Homo sapiens: one gene and its partner. The protein of the gene in region 2 purifies or fractionates together with the protein of the main gene of each other region. This does not show direct contact. Each region holds a gene or a part of one and is shown on either strand. Other genes may lie near its edges.

Region 1 (4,837 bases), on a different chromosome or scaffold from region 2:
CTACATCAGAGACCAGAAGGACCACAGGGTGGAGGACCAGTCCCAGGCACGAGCAACCAGCAAGGAGAGGTCTCAGGAGTGCTCACCGGCCTCGTCCTCCCCGAAGGAGATGATGTACGGGTAGTAGTTGTTGATGAGGCCTGGGAACTCACAGGTCTGGCCGTGGCCCATGCAGATCTCACTGTACTGCCACTGGCCTGTCCCTGGGTTCTCTTGGAGGGACATCAGACGCCTGCAAAGGAAGATGAGCTGTGAGGCCATGCCTGGCATGGCACCCAGGGGAACCTACCCACCAATCCATCCATCCATCCATCCATCCATGTATCCATTCCTCCCTCCCTTCTTCCCTCCATCCTTCCACCATCCATCTACATATCCACTCACCCACTGATCCATGCAAGGACCATACACAATTCGCAGAGCCCGATGCAGAATGAGCATGCAGGGTCACTTGTCCAAAACATATTAAGAATTCAAGATGGTGACCACAGAGCATGAGATCAAGGGTGAACCTTTCTGGGTACCGGGCCCTCTGTGACTGCACATGTGGTATGTCCATGAAGCTGTCACTGTGTGCAATCTTCACCCAGCACCTACCAGACACCCACAGGAACGAACAAGACCGGCTTGGTTACTGCCCGCTGAATGCAATCCAGCCCACTGGATCCTACAGAGGGCACAGCGCTTTCAAGAGCTCACTGGTTTCAGAACCTGCCAAGCACTGGAGCTCCAACATCTTTGGAATATGCTAACCTTGCTCCTTACTCCCATCGCTGCTTGTCAATCACCTATTAATACTTCCAGGCCCTGCTTAGAGATGTCCCCTCCTCTGTGAAGCCCTCCCTGAAGGCCCCCATGCTGGGCTCCCCGACACTGTGCACAGGCTCTCTGGGGTTGCAGTGCAGTGGACTGAATGGGTCTGTCTCCCTGGCTCGGGTACGAGGGGTCCTATTCATCTCTGTCATCCTGGTTCTTGCCTGACCCAGCAGAGCGGCTGGGAAAATACTGGCAAAATTAGTTGAATTTCTGTGGTCAGGAGACTTGGGCTCTCCTGGGAAGGACAGAAGGGAGAAAGGAGAATCAGGGGTAAAAACAGAGGCTTCATCTGTACCCATTTTCCAGATGGGAAAGCTGGGTCCCCGGGGAAGGGGCGGATCTGGGAGAGGAATCCAACTTCCAGGGGCCCAGGTCAGGTATCTCTCTCAGCTCCAGGCTGCAGGCTGGACACAAAATCAGAATTCTCCCACTAGCTTCAGGCATCTTCATGTCTTTATTCCCTCTCCTTAGGAACCCTATTCGGCTGCTGCCAGAGGAGGTTGCATGGAAATAAGTAAGAAACACCAGGCTGGGCACCGTACCTTCAGCCTGTAATCCCAGCACTTTGGGAGGCCAAAGCAGGAGGATTGCTTGAGTCCAGTTCAAGATTAGCTTGGGCAATGGAGCAAAACCCCATCTCTACAAAAAATGCAAAAATTAGCCAAGCGTGGTGGCACATGCCTATAATCTCAACTATTCAGGAGGCTGAGGTGGGAGGATTGCTTGAGCCTGGGAGGTGGAGGCTGCAGTGAGCTGAGACTGTGCCACTGCATTCCAGCCTGGGTGACAAAATGAGACCCTGTCTCAAAAAAAAAAAATCACCATATATTAAGCATGTACTCCTTCCTTCCTTCCTTCCTTCCTTCCTTCTTTTCTCTCTCTCTCTCTTTCTTTCTCTCTCTTTCTTTCTTTCCACACTAGATTCTAAGTGATATTTATGTATTAACTGATTCAGTCCTTAAAACCACCCTAGGGGCAAGTACTATGATCATCTCCATTTTGCAGATGAGGTAGCTGAAGATAAGGAAAGGTGAAGTAACTGGCTCAAGGTCACCTGGCCAGTAACTGAGCCAGAGTTCAGACCAAGCCGTCTCAGCCTGCCCTTGGGCCTCTTTAGTCCTCAGCTTTCTCCTCTGTAAATGGGACAAGGTGGTCACGAGGCTCCATAAGCACCCTTGGGGACAGAGCCTGACTCGAAGGAGGGTTGTGATGTAGGTTTCCCTCCCCCATCAAACCTATTTGGGATGTGATTCATCCTCCTCCCACAGCAGGGTCTCAGTGGGTGGTACTGCTGCCCTAGAGCACGGGGGCAGGGCAGCAAGGCTCCAAGGCCACAAGAGCCCCACCTCCTCCTCTCCCCATTAGGAGGCCCATGGGCAGCCACTGTTCTCTCGGGTCTTAGTTTCTCAACCTTTGCAAGCTCCCTGCAGTCCTGGCTGGGGTGGGGTGGGGCAGGGCTCCAGGCCCCCATCAGCTGTTGCAGTGACAAGCTGTGGCTTCCCCAGGAGCAGGGTGGCCCTGAGTGTCCAGGAAATTGTTCATATTCTGCCCTCCTGCCCATCAGAACTGCTGTCAGGCCCAGAGCCCATGGTTCTCAGGAGGGAGAGGAAGACCACGGGACCCGCACTTAAGCAAGCCTCCAGTCTTTAATGCCATGAGTTGTGTGTCTATCATAGAGGTACTGAGGCCTGCAGCAAAGGCTCACCATACATCTCAGGAGAAAAGCGGGTGGATGCGGGTGTCCGGCCCACACCTAGGGGCCCCTGTCAGAGCAGCGAGGCACATGTGCAGGAACGGGCGCACACATACACTCCCCTTTACCAAGGAGCCAGTCCCAAGGAGCCAGTGGCAGCAGCCAGGGGCGCGAGGGCACTAGGTCACTTACCCGCTCATGAAATCCCCAAAAATGTAGAGGCCGTTCAGGTTGGGGTACTCGCAGCCCCGGTACACGTAGCCCCCTGTGACCGACTTGCCAACCGTGTGCGGGTAGGCGAAAATCGGCAGCAAGTCATCTGCGGGGTGGGAGGGAGAGAAGCTTCGGTGAGCCAGCGGCGGGAAGGTTCATCAGCCAGGAGAATTCCGGAGGGATTCCGCGGGGGTGGGGCGGCCACGGAGGGAGGGGCGTGCCCACAGCAGGGCTGGCGTGCCCACAGCAGGGCTGGCGTGGTGGAAAGCGTGTCTGCAGGGGTGCCAGGTGGGGATGGAGCGAGGAAGAACTCAAGAGCGCTGCTGGGAGGCCTCCAAGGCGCAGGGAGGCTCCGGGTGGAGGCGGGGGCAGTCACCGAAGGAGGCTTTGGCTCACAGCCCGTGGAGTTGGGGTGGGGGCAGATCCAGGGTCAGGGGGTGCCTGGGGTGCGGGTGGTCCCCGAGTGAGGCCCTGCCGCACAGCCCATAGAGTGGGGCCGAGGACAGACTCAGGGTCAGGGATCTCCGGGGGGGGGGGGGTGCGGTCTCCGAGGGAGGCCCTGCGGCACAGCAGGTGGGGTGGGGTGGGGGCGGATTCGGGGCCGGGGTCCCCGGGGCGCGGGCACTCACTGAGAGAGGTGTTGGCGCACAGGCTGCGGTCGTAGCACTCGAACCCTTCGCGCGCGCGCCAGCCATAGTTGCCGCCGCGCTCCACCACGTCCACCTCCTCGAACTTGTTCTGGCCCACGTCGCCGCAGAAGAGGCGCCCGCGGCCAGTGCCCGAGGAGGGGTCGCCACGGTCGAAGGAGCAGCGCCACATGTTGCGCACGCCCAGGGCGTAGACCTCGGGCTGCGCCGCGGGGTCGCCCACGAACGGGTTGTCGGGCGGGATGCCGTAGGGCAGGCCGCGCTCCTTACGGTCCACGTCGATGCGCAGCACCTTGCCCAGCAGCGCCGACCTGCGGGCGGGGTGGGAGAGGGCGCGGCTCGGGGTCGCCCTGAGCCAGGGCTCACGGGCTCCGCGGGGCAGGTGCTGGGGCGCCGGCTGACCGCTGAGCCAGGTGCAGGGTGAGCCTAGGCTGTGGGGCCAGAGACCCTGGGATGCTGTCCGCCTTAACTACTTACAGCCGGGTAACCATTCATTCACTCAACATGCATCCCCCACCTTCCTGTGCGCCAGGCCTGTCCCATGCGTTGGACACAACACATCATCTATTTCGTCTTGTCCTCACAACAGTCGTTTAGGTAGGTGTGTCCTAGTATGATCCCCACTTTACAGATGTGGCAGCGGAGCTCAGAAAGCTCAAATAACATCGCCCAGTTGCCGCACCGCTGGGATCCAGCCCAGACAGCCTGGGCCCAGAAACTCAAGCTCTTTACCACACACTCTGTGGAATCTTGGTGTCCTCAACTGTAATAGTAGAGTGGTCCCGCTCAGACCATTCAGTCCTCCCGGACTGTGGTATAGGGTGAAAATTCCACTAGAAAAAATGACTTGTATTTACAGTTTTCTTCCAGTACTCGGCACTGTGACCAGCACATAGTAGGTGACCATTAAGTGCAGAGTCAGTGAATGAAGGATTGCAATCAAAGCCAAATGCACCAGCGTGCGGGTTGGTGGGGAGAGGGGGAGAGAGCAGAGGGGTGCAGCCCTAAGCTCCAAGCAGCTAAGGAGGATAGCTCATGACAAAAGTGACGCGTGATGGGAAAAATCTGTAATGTGCTTAAAGACAGTGCGGAGAACATGCCCTTCTCAGCGGTGATTTCTGATGCACCGACTGAATGCATCAGTTTCCCTTGCTGTTAGCATTTTGGTGTCCTCCCTCTGGGTTGCTTTTCAAGGCAGGGTTTGTGAAGCTGTATTCCATCATCCTCACATAGCGTTAGCACCCACACCTTTCCCTTATCAGTAGGGACAGCAAACAAGTATCCTCTTTCACGGTGATGAAACGCTCCCACCCGATATATGCCTTGTGATCAAGCCCCTGTTGCTGGCCTTCTACTTTCCCCCGTAAATTCCTCTCATACACTCCAGCCTGCTGAACACCATCCAGATCACACCCCTGAACCCACGCGTCACATGCCAGGATTCGATATCTAAGTGGGCACAACTTGT
Region 2 (4,837 bases):
GGGGCCAAAAAGCCTGGTTGAAGGGAGGCCTCATGGGAGTCACCCTGGAGCCCCCAAGTGCCATGGCCGTCCCTCCCCCAGCCCGTCCCGAGCCCACCTGCTGCCCCCCGGGGCTTGTCTGACAGCCTGACAGGGCAGGGCTGCACGCTGCCCCCGTGCCGGTGCCCCCAGCCCTCCCCTTGGGTGCTGTGTAGATGGATATTTTTTCAGTGCACAGTATATACTTGTGTCCAGGAGTTAACTTTATAGCTGCCATTCTAAAAATACTACTGTTAGAAAGTATCTTTTGTTATAATTTCAGAATATAAAAAGGCATATAAAAGCTATAATCCTATATATCTGAGAAAAATTCTGAATAAAAAACTGGTAGCTTTTCCTTTCCTGTTTTGCTATAAAACAGTGGCTTTCTAGAACGGTTAATACTGCCCCGAGTGAATGCGTTTGGCATGGTACGAATGAGGCTCCCGTCTGTGGAATCCGTCCCGTGTCTGCTGTGGAGACAGCGGAAGCTGCTGTCCTGGCTTCTCCCCCTAGGGGCGCCGGGATGGTCGCAGGAAGGAAATGCTTCTGGACATGCGCAGCCGACCATGACCCCAGCCACGGCAGGAGGCCTCGAGGATCAGTCTGGGCCACGGTACGCTCTGGAGCAGCAGCTTGCACTGCAGGGCGACCACCTCCCAGGACCCCAGCCACGGCACGAGGCCTTGGGGATACCACCTGGGCCACGGTATGCTCTGGAGCAGCAGCTTGCACCGCAGGGCGACTGCCTCCCTGCCACGCCTTCCGCGGAGGGGCCGCCCGCGGTGTCTTTCTGCTGGGGTTGGGTCTTTTACCTGGGTCTTTTAGCCAGGAAAGCTATTTTTTATTGGCAATCCTTCGTTTCCTCGTTGCCAACATGTCATAGAAGGGATCTCTGCTGATACTGGCTCTGGTGAAAAAAGGAAAACACACAGGTTAGGTCGTGGGTGACACACAGACCTCCCCTTTCCCACCAGCCCCAGAGGCCCCTCAGACAGGACCGCAGGCTCAGATCTGAACGTCGGCTTTGGCAGCCCGGCCCTCTGGGGTTTCTGGAGACAGAAGGTCCACTCTTGCACACGGAAGCATCCATGTTCCAGACCATCCCCCGCCCTCCAACCGGCACGAGAAGACGGGCCTGGCCCCGCCCCCGAGGCCCCACTCACTTGATGGATTTCATCCACTCCTCCTTCTCCTCCGGGCTCGGGGCTGAGATCCGGTACACCACATGGTTCCCCTCTACCACGCGGCCGTCGGCCTCAGTCTTACAGGCCTTGATGACCTGCCCTTTGTGGCTGGGATTGTAGAGCTCAAAACAGTTCTGGTGGAGAAAGAGAGAGGGGAGGCGGTCAGGGGGGCTTGGGGCAGGTTCCCTGCAGGCAGTGAGGATGGCTCCCAGGTGGCTGGCAGGAGAGAAGGTTCAGGAGGAAGAGCTTACGGGTTTCCGGGGGTCCTCCACCTCCCTGATGCTGAGGTTTTCCAACGGGATGATTCCCCTGGGCTCCTTATCCTACAAGAGGAAAGTACACGGCGGGGCTCACTGTGGGTCACCAGCCTGAGGGTCCCTCGGCCCCAGGGCAGCTCCGGGACTGCTGGGAGGCGGCAAGGAGGCCTGGCCCTTACTTACTGTTGTGTATTCAAAGTAATAGAGGCAGTTATCGGTCAGGATGAACCACCGGCGCTTCCAGGTCTTCACACGCCCTCCTAGAAGCAGAAGGGCCCCGTGAGTCTGCGCTCCGTGCACAGGGAGCCCGCGGGTCCAAGAGGGGGCCCTGGACCTGCACAGACCACTGCGTTTTCAGAAAGGCCACCAGGCGCCAGGCTTGGGTTCAGGTGTCCTTCAGCGTTCCCACCGCAGGGCCCCACATGCACCCACCCCGCCCACACCGGCGCCCCCTCCACGGCACTGATGGGCCCCTTGATGACACAACCGCGCTACAATTCGCTTCCTGGGAGAGTTAGTGGGATGGATGGCGTCATTTTCCCACATGAGATGGCAGTGTGATGAAGTCAGGACTGCGCGCCTGGCTCTGTCCAGGACCTGACCCCACCATGTCAGGTGGTTATCGCATTACAGAGGCCCTTGGGCAGCCCTGGGATCCATCAAAATCAGTCACCCCTGGGCCCAAGGAATCGTGAGACTGAATTAATTTTGTAACAAGATCTGGAGCACACGTGCACACGCACGTACCCCCATCTGTACCTGCCCTCCTCTCCCTAAGGGAAGGAAATCTCTGATCCTTAAACACTGAGCAGAGACAAACTGACTTCAGCTGCTATAGCCTTGCCGGTGTTTGTTTTTTAAATAATTCAAAGAAATACACGCTGGTGACAATGAACTCAAGTGCTCCCTGGGGTACTAGGCCCTCTCTGCCCCATGCCTCTCCAGCGCTGCGGAGCTCACCCGGCTTTCTCTGTGACAGGCCGGCAGGGGAGTAGCCCTCCCTCCCTAAGTGGGGGCCAGCACGGGCGCTGAGGCCTGGAGGCAAGACTGTGTGCGAAGGGCTCTGTGGATGGATCACCAGGACACAGGGGGCTTTCCCTGTTGGGGCCTGGTTTGCAGAGACCCTGGGTGAGGAGGAACCAGCTGCAGGTGGGAGGAAGCCTGGCTCAGCGGAACTGGAGGCCGGAAGCGGGTCTCTGCAGTCCCTCTGGGACCCTCTGGCCCCTGCCTCACTCAGTGCTGCCGTCCTCCTTTGATGCCTAAGGCAGCCTGCAATGCGGTTGCCACCGCCAGCCTGGAACAGGAGCCCAGCCTCCAGCTGTTCCTCCTCTCCCCACAGGCCCCAGTCTCATCAGTGTCCCACCAGCCTACCTGTTAAAGGGTCTGTCTAGACCCTGGTCTGGGCAAATCTGCCCCCAAGCTCTCTGCTGCATCTCCCCAGCCCTCAGACCCTGCCCCCAACATCTCTCCTGAGCCCTGGCGGGGCTTCCACTCCCCGAACCCCTGCAAGCTGCTCCGTCACTGGAACCCTCTGCCCCAACTGTGGCACCGCCTCACTGGTCCCCTTTAAGACCCAGCCAGGCCCACAGCAAGGCCCAAAGTCCTTGTTGCCCTCGTGTCCCTGTCTCACCGCGGGCTCCATGCTCTCTGCAAGCCCTTGGCCTTCACCTTCCCCACCTCCACTGCAGCACACCAGGGAGGCCCAAGTCCACAGGGGAGGGCAGGAGACCCTGGGGGCAACCTGCCTTGTCCCACAGTCCTCCAGTGAGCAGTGAGAGGTGTTCTATGTCCCCGAGACCCTAGGGACAGGAGGACAGTGCTGATTCCTTCCAGGCACTTGCTCCAGCTTGAACTGCTGTGGCAGAATCAGCTGACAGCAACTCCACTACCCTGACATCCGTCACTGTCACGGTCGCCTCTGCTTCCCTCCAGAGACTCCAGAGCAGGCCCCGCTCCAGCTGCACTGGTGCCAGCTGCCATCCCCCAAACAGCGGCCAAAGGCATCTTTTCAAAAACGTGGCAATCATGCCCCTCCGGCTTGAAGCCCCCCAAAGGGTCCCACTGCACTCAGCTTTAAACCCAACTCCTTGGGCGGCAGCAGGGGCTGCCCTTCCTGGCTCCCCAGCTGTGGCCTTTCTCCCTGCCCTGTTATCTGAGTCTCCAGTTCTTGGGGAGCTCATCCAGGAGCCCCCAGGTTGTGTGTTTCTGTCCAGCGCCTGCTCTCTTCCTCCACGCTCCCAGCATGGTGGACAGCAAAGGACCTGTATGTTCCACTAGCCCACACACCTGGCCCCGCCTGGGAGGGGTCTGCCAGGTGGCCTCTCAGCTCCACCTTGGGTCCCCCGCTCACACCTCCCATGCAGAGCCCCATCCCTGTCCAGTCCTCAGGGCCAGGGGGTCGTTGCAGACCAGGACTGCAGGCCCAGGGAAGGGGTGATAAGCTTGGTCTCAGAGCCGAGCAGGCTCTGCTCACACTTGTTTCTGGCCACACCACACAGCATTCTCGCCTGCAGACAAGAGCCTGGCTTCTGGAACCTGCAGATGGGAGCCACTTTCTCTCTGTAAGTTTCTGTCTTCATTGCCGTTAGCAGGCAGGCGCGTACGTGCACACACAGGTCCACATGCACACACTTTCTGTATGGCAGCTCGGATTGGGCCACCTCCTAGGATTTTTTTTTTTTTTTTTTTTCTGGTGATTGATTCAAGACTCGAAGTCTTAAGTTACCAACAATCGTAAGCCACGCCTGTGTACACAGCAGGGCTCCTACGCTCTGGCAAAGCATCCAGGCCTTTTTAAGACCACCTGTTCTAAAAGCAAATCTACAATAAGAATGCAACCAAGCCAGGCCGCACTCCCCGCTGAGCACACGCCTGGAAGCACGTTCTAGATCCTGCACCCATCTCGTCTGCCTCCAGCCAGGGCCCTGGCTCGCCAGCCTTTGGTCTCGAACTTTGTTTCTGAGAACACAGCAGACATACAGGGTGCTGGGAGAGGACAAGGAAGCCAGCCCCTAGAGCAGCAGGTGCTCACCGGGCCGCCCACCACACTGAGGCCACGCCAGCTGGACCAGCCCCTCCAGGGCCCCTGCGCTTGGCACCCGGCGCCCAGCCAGCTCTTGGTTCCCGTGAGCACTGTGTGCACTCATTTCATGGCCTGTTTATCTGCCCAACCAGAAAACAGGTTAGACAACACGAGCTCTGCTGTGCCTTCATTTCATTCACACACTTACGTCTCTAGAGCCGACCTTTCCCTGGTGGCAGGGGTCACATTGGCTGCCAGGCAGGCTGATGGCGTCACTGTCCCTCGAGGGGACACTGGTGGGCAACGCAGGAACCAGAAGGGAGGCATCTAATCAAACGAACATCCCACTTATC

Evidence for each region. Proteins that work in one complex are often made in the same cells at the same time.
Region 1: the proteins of CYTH3 (region 2) and HHIPL1 purify together in Homo sapiens (co-immunoprecipitation; one large-scale study listed by IntAct). This does not show direct contact.

What each region holds. Positions count from the first base shown.
Region 1 is NC_000014.9:99,658,271-99,663,107, reverse strand, and holds part of HHIPL1 (HHIP-like protein 1 isoform a precursor), read right to left. Parts: intron 3,681-4,837; coding exon 3,352-3,680; intron 2,829-3,351; coding exon 2,702-2,828; intron 233-2,701; coding exon 87-232; intron 1-86.
Region 2 is NC_000007.14:6,164,089-6,168,925, forward strand, and holds part of CYTH3 (cytohesin-3), read right to left. Parts: intron 1,723-4,837; coding exon 1,646-1,722; intron 1,529-1,645; coding exon 1,457-1,528; intron 1,340-1,456; coding exon 1,185-1,339; intron 929-1,184; coding exon 856-928; 3' UTR 1-855. UniProt on the Homo sapiens protein: Promotes guanine-nucleotide exchange on ARF1 and ARF6. Promotes the activation of ARF factors through replacement of GDP with GTP. Plays a role in the epithelial polarization.